2 separate regions of the Homo sapiens genome follow, and region 1 is linked to region 2. Evidence: fine-mapped expression QTL. A gene starts in region 2. The other region holds a variant in brackets. All regions are shown on one strand. Distances are between the middles of the regions.

What was found. PIP is the estimated chance that this variant, and not a neighbour inherited with it, causes the effect.
Region 1: its variant is the best candidate, but not a certain one, in a credible set for the expression of TTC23-AS1 in tibial artery (GTEx, PIP 0.87).

The regions. Positions count from the first base shown.
Region 1 is chr15:99,175,695-99,181,077 of GRCh38, forward strand. The region is part of intron 9 of TTC23 (tetratricopeptide repeat domain 23); the gene reads right to left. Among named protein-coding and RNA genes, the nearest start is that of TTC23-AS1, 39 kb to the left of the region's middle. The variant A/G (reference allele first, on the strand shown) is at 2,573.
Region 2 is chr15:99,136,860-99,142,242 of GRCh38, forward strand. It overlaps TTC23-AS1 (TTC23 antisense RNA 1), which reads left to right and starts at 2,458. Exons shown (of 2, transcript NR_186223.1): 1 at 2,458-4,180. TTC23 (tetratricopeptide repeat domain 23) reads right to left here. Exons shown (of 14, transcript NM_001288615.3): 13 at 2,458-2,540; 14 at 1-1,268. The coding sequence ends at 1,151. It also overlaps a transcript of SYNM not described here. RefSeq lists an enhancer at 1-406.

The sequences.
Region 1 (5,383 bases), 39 kb after region 2:
GTCCACTAAAATGTTGTTGCCCAGGCGCGGTGGCTCATGTCTGTAATCCCAGCACTTTGGGAGGCCAAGGCAGGTGGATCACTTGAGGTCAGGAGTTCAAGACCAGCCTGGCCAACATGGTGAAACCTCATCTCTAATAAAAATATAAAAATTAGCCGGGTATGGTGGTGCACGCCTATAGTCCCAGCTATTTGGAAGGCTGAGGCACGAGAACAGCTTGAACCTGGGAGGTGGAGGTTGCAGTGGGCCGAGATTGCACCACTGCACTCTAGCCTGGGTGACAGAGACTCTGTCTCAAAAAATAAAAGTTTTTAAACAACAAACAAAAAACTATGATCTTCTGAACATAAAATCACAATAGTCCTTTCAAATAACATGCAAAATACCTGCTTTCAAATAAAAAGTAACTACTCAACTCCCTGTCAGCATTTGGAGTTTTAAAATACTATTAGTAACATGTTTACATTCATTCACACTTAGGATTGCCTACTATAGGAGAGGCATGGGCTAGAAAGTGTGTGCAGTACAAAAAATAAAATACGGTGAAGTAAGATAATACACTAATGTGAGTCAGTAGGTAGGTAGTTCACAATTAATTGCCAAAAGAGTGACAGAATACTAAAATGCCATGAGTAGGCCAGGCATGGTGGCTCACAACTGTACTCCCAGCAGTTTGGGGGACTGAGGCTGGAGATTGCTAGAGCTCAGGAGTTCAAGATGAGCCTGGGCAACATGGTGAAACCCTGTCTCTACAACAAATACAAAAATTAGCCGGGCATGGTGGCATATGCCTGCAGTCCCAGCTACTCGGGAGGGCTAAAGCGGGTGAATTGCTTTGAGCCCGGGAGGTTGAGGCTGCAATGAGTTATGATTATGCCACTGCACTTCAGCCTGGGTGACAGAGCAAGACCCTGTCATACACAAATACACACAAAAAGATAAAAAAGGAAAACACTAGATTGGGATAGGCAAAACACACTAGCAATTCATAAGATGTAAGCTGCACTTTAATTCTTTTTTATTTGTGATACCAATTTTAATTTTCTTGATAATTGTTATCTTCATTTTATACATGAGAAAACTAAGATTGCTGAATGGGTGATTATGATATCTCACAGCTAATAAGAGATAGAGATAAGAGTCTGACCCTGATCCTCTAACTTCAAATTCTGCTATCTCTATCATGTCCTGAGTGCTGCCATTCCCCCCACCCTAGCCAGTGGTGGGAGACATCACTAATTGATGCCAGCACACTCCTCAGGGAACCCTAATTCAGTCCTCAGGAGCTGTGATTCATCTATGGCAGCTGGCACAGGAGATCAAGTCATCCCAGTTGAGCATTCTAGTCTGGACCATGCAGTACTTCCTCCTCTTATGACCAGCCGAATGCATTTCTGAGACTATAATCAGAGCGGAGATAGAATCTTTGACTCTAGACTGTCACCTTACTTGTCACATGTTAAAATCTGCTAAGCTACTAGCTCTGGACTTTTTATGTTGGGGCTACTCCAAAATAAGACTGCAGGTAATAATTTTTATTGCTGCATTAGAATAGTCAGAATTTCTTATTCATAAGTGCCAACAATATCCTTTGCTTTAAAATGACTTTTCTTATTACAGAATATAAAGAATTGAATATGTGATTTTGGCAACCCCAAATTAGCCACTGTCCTTGATTTGGCATGAAAGGCCCAATCTTAAGGTCTGACTTAAATGTTTTCCAAATAACGGGCACTATGAAATTCAACTTCATGTGTATATAGACAATAGCAGCCACAGGGATAGAGTCAAATTATTGCTTGTGTAGTGTTTGGAGAAAGGAAAAAAGAGGAAATACCCACACCCTCCGAAAAAATACCAAATGCAAATTGAGCCATGTTTACTTTGCTTTTCCCCTACTATCTCTACGATCTGTTATTTGGAGAGAACAATCACTGTGTAATGCCAGAAAAGCTTTAACTCATATGATGCAAAGACATATAGTATTTTAGATTAAAACCAAAACAAGAAAGATTTTATATTTTGTTTCTTCCTATTCAATATTATAAATTCAAGAAAATGTTAATAGATATGTGTCTAACAAAATTATTTTCAAATCAATAATTACATGTTCTGAAAACACTGTAAGTTGTTTTTTTGCCATGGAGACAGAAAGCAAAGTTTTCCAAGAGCAAAATACACACAATATCAAGAAAGTGAGTCAGGCTGGGCATGCTGGCTCATGCCTATAATCTCAGCACCTTGGGAGGCCGAGGCAGGAGGATCACTTGAGCTCAGGAGTTTGAGACTAGCCTGGGCAACATAGTGAGACCCTGTCTGTACTAAAAAATAAAAAAAATTAGCCAGGGGTGGTGGCATACACCTGTAGTCCCAGCTACGCAGGACGCTGAGGTGGGAAGATCACTTGATCCTGGGAGATCAAGACTGCAGTGAGCCGTGATCGTGTACTGCACTCCAGCTTGAGTGACAAAGCAAGACTCTGTCTCAAAAAATAAAAAAAGAAAGTGGGTCCTGAAAGCTTAAAGGGATCTGAATTTATCACAAAATTTTCATGACTTAAACATTTTTCTAC[A/G]TGAAATGCTAACATAAGCAAACATTTATTATTCATTATTCACTTCAGAAACTCAATCCCTAATGTAATTTATTTGATGTTCATGAAGCTTTTATAAACCATATGCTAGAGGGAAGGGGGTTTGACGGGGGAACACCCAGGATGTCTAAAATGTGCAAAATTAGCATCTCATTTATTCAGTAAAATTCAATTTAATTCCATTTAATTTAATTCAGTCCTATTCAACTTATGTTCATTTTTAAATGCTTTCTACATGCCAGATATTGTGCTAACATTAGAAATTCCCCTAAAAATTTAGGCAGGAATTTTAGTTTTAAAGGAGCTCACATGTGAACTACAAAAATGTAGGATAGTTTGTATTTTATGCAGATTTACAGACACTGCCCCTCACTAGGTTTTTGCACCCAGCTAACTGACTTCCTATCTACCCTTACTCTTGTCATCATTTCCCAAGATTTCAGTATGCATGAGATTGGCCTGTACTCAATCAGGCAGGAAAGAGATGGCACATGTAAACAGGTTAATGGAGGAAAAGAGGTCAATAAAATGATCCCTGGCATGGAGGAAACCCAAGATGAGCACGCTGGCTCCCAAGACAAGGTGCTGGGGGCATTTGCTATAACCAGAAAGAAGAATTGTAGGGAAATGAGCGGTGGGTTTCAGTAGAGACACGGCCTACCTGCAGGGACCTTGAGGGGAGGGGCTGGAGGAATGGATGCTCTGTCTCCATGTCTTCCCTGGTCCAGGCTGTGTATCTCTCAGTCTGAGGGAAAGGGCACTGAGATGGTAATTAAAGGTCAGCCTCTGGGGCACAGAGCAGGGCTGAGAAGGATGCACAGTGTAGCTGAAGGACCACACGGAAATGTCCAGCCAACGACCTAGCCAACACCTTGGCCTCTCAGGTTTCTGACAAACTTACTTTCCTCCTTACTCTCAGGTGCCCAGTCCCTGGGTCACACTCCAGACCTCATCATCGCCCACTCTGTGTTACCACTGGATCCTCCAACTCACAGACCCATTTTGGCTCTTGGGGGGCCCTAGATCTATTGCCTCCATGCACATCTACTCCACCGCCCCCTGACATTCTCACTAGTCATCCAACCCTCCTGCTGTCCTTCCCTTCTTGTCCAGCTTAATGGGCACCGCCCATTGCCTGTGTTGAAAATGCCCTCCACTGATGCATTAATTGAGATGGTAAAAAATGGGGAACCACCTAAATATCTATCAGCAGGGGAATGAACATATTGTGGTTTATTCTACAAGTTCTTGATTGAACTCCATCTACATATGTTAACATGGTTGTATTTCAAAAACATACCACTGAGTGAACGAAGCAACTTGTAAAAGGATGCAAACACCATGGCACCATTGATTTTCAAGTTTCTTTTCTGGAGCAGAAGAACCCAAACAAAACCTTCTGTGGTTCTCAATATACACAGCAGGAAAGAGCAGAACAGCCGCTCTCACAGAAGCAGGTGGAGGGGCCTGGAAGTCTGACTACCTGCTCCCAGCTAGCTGCCCCAGAAGAACCTCCATGGAACATGAGGGCTCAGGGTGACACAGATTGAGAACCACAGCACATGCTGGGCAGTGAGGCTTCCTTAGGGAGTGAGTGCAAAGGACGTTGACAATGCTAGTGTTTAGACTACACTGTCTTTCCAAACTCAACCATTGTTCACAATTTTCAAACAATGCTTCATTTGCTGAGGGAATATAAATACCCTGTTACATGCATCTGAGAGCATTTAAGGACTAGGAATCACAGTTAACAGAATTACAGGCATCCTGCTTGCCTCTCCTGGATTTCTGCAAGAGATCAAGTAATGGGCCTCGCTGGGGCTCCATAGTTTGACCACACTCACTCCTTCTCCTCAGGATTTATTAATCTCCCCAGGGCTTGCATTTCCCCTCATGTCTTTTGTTCTTTTCAGTATCTTATGGTTACATTTATCAACTGTCATCTTGAAGCTGAGGAGGAATGTTTAATATCTCCAAATCCCTTGGGGTGCTGGCATGTTGGACTGGGTTAAAAACAAAAAAAAACTTCTAATATTCCACATTGAACAAGGTCATTAATTAAAAAAAAAAAAAACAAAACTCATCCACAAGACCAAGGACCTCAACCCCTGCCAAGGCACAGAGCAGCTGTTCCATCCTGGTGCCTTGTATGTATGTCTGGGGGAAACCACAGATTCCTCAGTGCCAATCAAGCTGTCGACAGACACAGCCAGAGCTGGCAGGCTTTTATCTAACTGGGCCTGTCCCCTTGGATTGGTAAAATGTGTAATATTTCCTAAAGAGAAAGCCTGATGACTAGTGAAAAGGATGAGAGACACTTCTATTTCTGCAGGCAGACCCCATCATCTGAACACTCAACTTCAAACCCTGGAAGGAGTCTGAGTGTGGAATCCCAGCTCTTGGGGATGGGGTGGGTCTTGGGGGTTAGGGAAATATATTTTCCCCCCACTTTGTAATAATTTGGGGTTCAGTGACAGAGCAAAATCTCTCCTACAGCAAAGTAGAGATTAAGTACACAAGAAGATCAAGGTACATTTGTGGACTTAGCCTGAATGTATTTACTCTGGAGATGAGAACACTCAGCGAGGAGACAATAGAAGTCTTCAACTTAGTCACAGCCAGGATCTCTTTGTACAGCTGAGGGTGAGCACTGGAGGGACACAGGGAAGGAGGGAACTAACATCGATTAAGCACCTTCTTCTGCCAGGTGTGGTACTAAATGAATTTTACCACTTACCAGTTCACTCAGTCTCAAAATGACCATTGAAAGTGATGTGAACAGCCCAATTTACA
Region 2 (5,383 bases):
AGGAAGACAATGGTCCCTGCTTCTCTCCACCCTGTCGTGGCTCTACTGAGTTTATTTTCCCCATCAATACTGGAGGTGGTGCCCTGCACAAATGGCCCCAGGGTGGTTTTGATGTCCCACTGGGGGCTGGAGGGGAGGGCCCTGTGCTGCAATCTGCTGTCATAGCACCAGCCTGCAGCCTCATGGCCACAGTCTGTGGGACCAGGGGAGGGAGGGGAAGGGACATCACTGCCCACACCTGCACCCCTACCCCTGGGTGTTCCATCCACCTCGATCTGGCACTGGATCTCCTCGTTGACATCGTGGAGGAAGGCACTCAAAGCTTCCTGTTCGACTTTGCCATCCTCACACGACTATGGCCTCCTTCCAGGGGGCTGAAGACTGCTGTGTACACGATAGTGTGCCAACTCAGGAAGCAGCTCCAGGTGGCATCCAGGTTTGTCCTGCCTGCAGTGGAGGCCACAGGAGGGATGCGAAGCAGCAGGGAGTCTGCGGTCTTCCCCCCGCAGCCTCCGGCTAGCCTTTCTTTTCACTCCCTTACACCTGCCTCCTGGGCCCCAGGCCAAGTCAGGTGTGTCGGCCTCCTGCCCCTCCTACTGGGCTCTTTCTCAAACCCCTTTTCAGGCTCCGAAGAACTCTGAGGCAGGCTGCACTTTGAAAACACATGCTGACAGCAGCGTGTTCAGGTTTCCCTTTATTAGCGTTTTCTTCTCATGTTATTCTCAATCCCTATTAGCCTCCTATAAGAAAGGACTTCCTGAAGTTCACTGTCCAGATCTAACTCCACACCTATGCAAGGAGCTGTGTGTACAAGCAGATGCCGGGCTGACTCCTGCACAGGGCGCACTGAACTGTTGAAGAGAAGTTTTTCAGCCACAGTAGTGCTGATGGGTAAAAATTCTTGTTGGCAAGAAAAACCACTTAGGTGATAGAAAACTGCTTTATAGCATATATCACCCTGAAGGGCATCCACTGTCAAAATGTGGCCCACGGGAGGCTTATGGTCTCACTGTTGCATGTTGGGGCCAACAGTTGGCCTTGGAAATCTGTATCCTGACTGTTGAATTCCATTTTCTAGGCGGAGGTGATTTGTACAGCACCCTAAATGACAGTGCCCAGGAATGTCCTAGGCTTTTTCAGGGTGGGGGCCTCAGTCTGCTGTTGTGCCGGGCCGGGCCTTCCCCAGCAGGGTGTCCTGAGGGATGCTGGTGCAGAAGGCCACTTTGGCTTTTGATGCCTGCCTTGGCTTCGAAGCAACCTTGGGGGCCCTGCAGACAAGCAGAGGGTGGGGTGAGTGTGGTGCCCCTCAGCCCCCCACACCGTTCCCATCCAGCCTTTGCTGCCCAGCAGGTGCCCAGACCCATTTATGAGAAGACTTGGTAGGGGCTATAAATGAGAGGAGAATTGTAGCACAGAGCATAAAACATGAGATGTTTTCCTCCCATCTTTTATTTTTTTAATTTTTTTTTTTTCAGACAGAGTCTCACTCTGTCACCCAGGCTGGAGTGCAGTGGCCCCATCTCGGCTCCCTGCAACTTCCGCCTCCCAGGTTCAAGCAACTCTCATGCCTCAGTCTCCCGAGTAGCCAGGATTACAGGCACATGCCACCACGCCCAGCTAATTTTTGTATTTTTAGTAGAGACGAAGTTTTGCCATGTTGGCCAGTCTGGTCTCAAACTCCTGGCCTCAAGTGATCCACCGCCTCGGCCTCCCAAGGTGCTGGGATTATAGGCATGAGTCACCTCGCCTGGCCCCTCCCATCTTTTAAAATCACCTGTGACCATCCTCACTGAGCTGAGGCCCTCAACCCTTAGCTGGCTTGGTGAGCAGGACATGGGTGAGGAGGATGGTCAGGGTTGCACTGGAGGCCTCCCTGGCTCGCCTTCCCTGCCCTCAAAGGGGATGGCGCCCTGCTGGCCAGGTTGTGTCTGCTCCGGGCTGTGGCCCTGTTTCCCTGAGCAGACTCAGGCAGCCCTGGGGCTGCTCTCTGCGGACCAGGCTCTGTGAGGTAGGCCCTCCACGGCAGAGCGCTGGGCCTCTGCTCGGGCTGAGAAAGGACGTAGGGGCCAGCCTTTAAGGTCAGTCAGTGAACCTTCCGGCTCCAGTCCTGACGGGCATCCGAGGGCAGAGGGAAGCCGGAAGCAGGGCTGCAGGAGGCCACAGGGATTCCCGGGGCCCTCCCCCTGCAGCAGGTGCCTTAGCCTGCAGGGGCTGGTCTGCAGGAAGACAACATCCAGCATATATTTCTGACTTAAAGGATGAATTATTTTTAAATACCTGGGCAAGGAAGATCTTTTACAACTCGGGTTTCAAAGGAACTTGTCCTTTATGCAAGTTATGGGAAGTCAGCAAAACATTCCAGAGAAGGTTACACAGAACCTTCTAGAACCAGCTTTCTCTTGAGATTCTGAATGGAAAGGGAATGAGATAGAGAAAGTGTGAGGGACGCCAACTCACGTGGACAGCATGCCCATGGCCTGCTGGGTGGCCAGAGTCCTTTTGTCCTGCGGTCCATATAAGAGGGTCTGGATCTGGAGACACTGTAGAACACCAAGCAGCTATCATGAGGCTATGGAAGTGTCGCTGAGAGCAGGAAACTAAGGTCTCCCTTGAATGAGAGAAAGATGACCTCATTCTTAGGCCCTGCTGTGATGGAATTAGCATGCTCCTGGGATGTCTCCTAGTGACTGACCTTTGGTTTGGATGTTCTGAGGGATCTAGGCAAAAGTGAACAGTTTTAGCACTATTTCACAAAACTCTCTGTGACTATCTGTATGCAAAAAATAGATTTAAAAGTAGTATTTTTAAAAATAAAGGCAAGAACCTTGGTACTGACCAGAGGATGGGCTCCAGTTTCTATTTTTAAATGTGGCCCTTGTTATAGCCTGGAAAAGATTTAAAAAAATAGTTTTGTTTTTTTTGTAAACACATACTCTACTTTTATTAATATATAGGCTGTCTATACTCTTGACTACACAGCAATGTCTTAGTTATTAGGAACCAAATATTCAGCTTATGGACTACCCAGGGCTGGCTTTGGCTTGATTTCTCCCTTCTGCTTACTTTAAGTCTTGCCATTTGATTGCTTGTAGTAGGCTAGGGCAAATCAAGGAGAGGAGAAAGATTAAAGTTGTGCCCAAAATGGCCAAAATAATTTTGAGAAAGAATGAGGTGGAGAGGTGGAGGAACTTGCTTTACTGAATGCCAAAGACCCTTTTATTTTTTTAAATAAAGTAATTAAGACAGCATGTTTGTCACCCGGGGTAGACAAAAAGACCAGTGGAACAGGGCAGAGAGCCCAAGCCTTGACAGATGACAGAAATGGCCTTGCGGGATTGGTGAGGAAGAGGTGGGCTAGTCAATAAATGGGTACTGGGACCGCTGGTTTTCCAAATGGAAGAAAATGGATCACTACCCCAAATCAAACACAAATATTAAGCTCAAGAAAGATTTGAAGGACTAAGTGTGAAATGCAAAACTTGGAGCTTTTAGATGAAAATACTGGAAAATATATATATATATATTTTTTGATGGAGTCTCACTCTGTCGCCCAGACTGGAGTGCAAGTGGGGTGATTTTGGCTCACTGCAACCTCCACCTCCTGGGTTCATGTGATTTTCCTGCCTCAGCCTCCCGAGTAGCTGAGATTACAGGTGCCCGCCACCACACTCAGCTAATTTTTGCATTTTTAGTAGAGATGAGGTTTCACCATGTTGGCCAGGCTGGTCTCAAACTCCTGACTGCAGGTGATCCACCTGCCTTGGCCTCCCAAAGTGCGGGGATTATAGGAGTGAGCCACCATGCCTGACCGGAAAATACGATCTTGAGGTAGGGAAGTATTTCTTAGACAAGATCTAGACAAAGCAAAAGTGAAAGACTGATAAAATGTAACTATGTGAAAACCTAAAATATTTGTGCACCAAAATTCACCATAAGCAAAGTAGAAAGACAAGCCACGCTGAGGAAAGATTCTTGCAGTGCACAGAAATGAGAAAGGTTTAACATTCAGAATACATGAAGAATTCCTATAAGGTAATGAGAAATACCAAACCAAACCAAAACCTCTCAATAGAATAACACTCAAAAGATATAAACAGATTATTCAAAGAGTTGAAATCTGATGAAATAAACATGCTTAATCTCATTAACAACCAGAAATACAAACTAAAACCTCAATGAGGTAGGTACCATTTCACCCACCAGACTGCAAAAACTACCAAGTTTTGTTAAAGATACAAAGCAACAAGAATTCTTTTATATATTGATAGTGGGTATTCAAACTGGTATAGCCCCTTTGTAAAACAATTTAGCAATATTTAGTAATGAATATGTAAACTGTGATATGTATATATTATATATGTATGTGATATATAAATGTTTGATATATGTATGTGTATATATAACCACATAGATGAATCTCATGATTACAAAGTCAAGGGGAAAAAGAAAACGACAGATGAATGCATATAATATGTATTATAATTTAATATGAAGTTTTAAAACATGCAAAACAAAACCATAGTAAAATAAGAAGAGCATGGGAATGATATCAAATTTAAAAAAGTAGTTATCTGGGGATGGGGTAGGTATAGAGGGGACTTCAACTGGATGGGTCATGTTTTATTTCTTATACTGAATGGTGAGTTCAAAGGTCTTTGTTATGTTATCCATACTTTTCTGCATAACAAATGTTTCATAATATATTTTTTAAAAATCGGATGAATTGTGCTACATAAATAGCTTGAGTAAAAAAAAGTGTGAGGGTTTGGGGACTTACTACTGAAGCCTGTTTATTCATTCTGATCTGCCAACCATTTTTAGGTCTTCAAGAAAATTAAAATGCAAGCAGCCAAATGCCTTTGTCTTTATAAGCTGTGGAAACTATAAAAACTGAATGTTTCAGTCTGAGGAATTGAGAATGTGGTTGTCCTTTGAAAAAAGTAACTATCAGATGAGAATATGACAGGATTTTTTAAATAACAGAAAATATTCACTATTTCTTAGTCATTTGACTAAGAAATATACAATATCAAGAAGTAGTAAACTCTTCTTGTTCTTTTATTTAATGCATAATTCAAATTCTACAAAGGCAAGGATCCCTGTCCCTCTGTCCAACAAGCCCTTGACTTTCTAAATCTGCACGGGGACCTTGGCCTGGCCTAGGCAATGGGCTGAGCTGCTCATTCCATGGGGTTGAGCCAGCATTGCTTTAATGCTTTAGGCTGTTGCGACCCTAGAAATTTAGGAACTTTGACTAAGCTCCGTTGCTCTGAGGGGAGGGGATGCGGACATGTTTTTGACAGCCATGGTACCTGATGAAAACCCTTCCAGCACCCTGCTTGGGTTACAGCTATTGGAAGCCTGGGCACACTGGGCCTGGCAG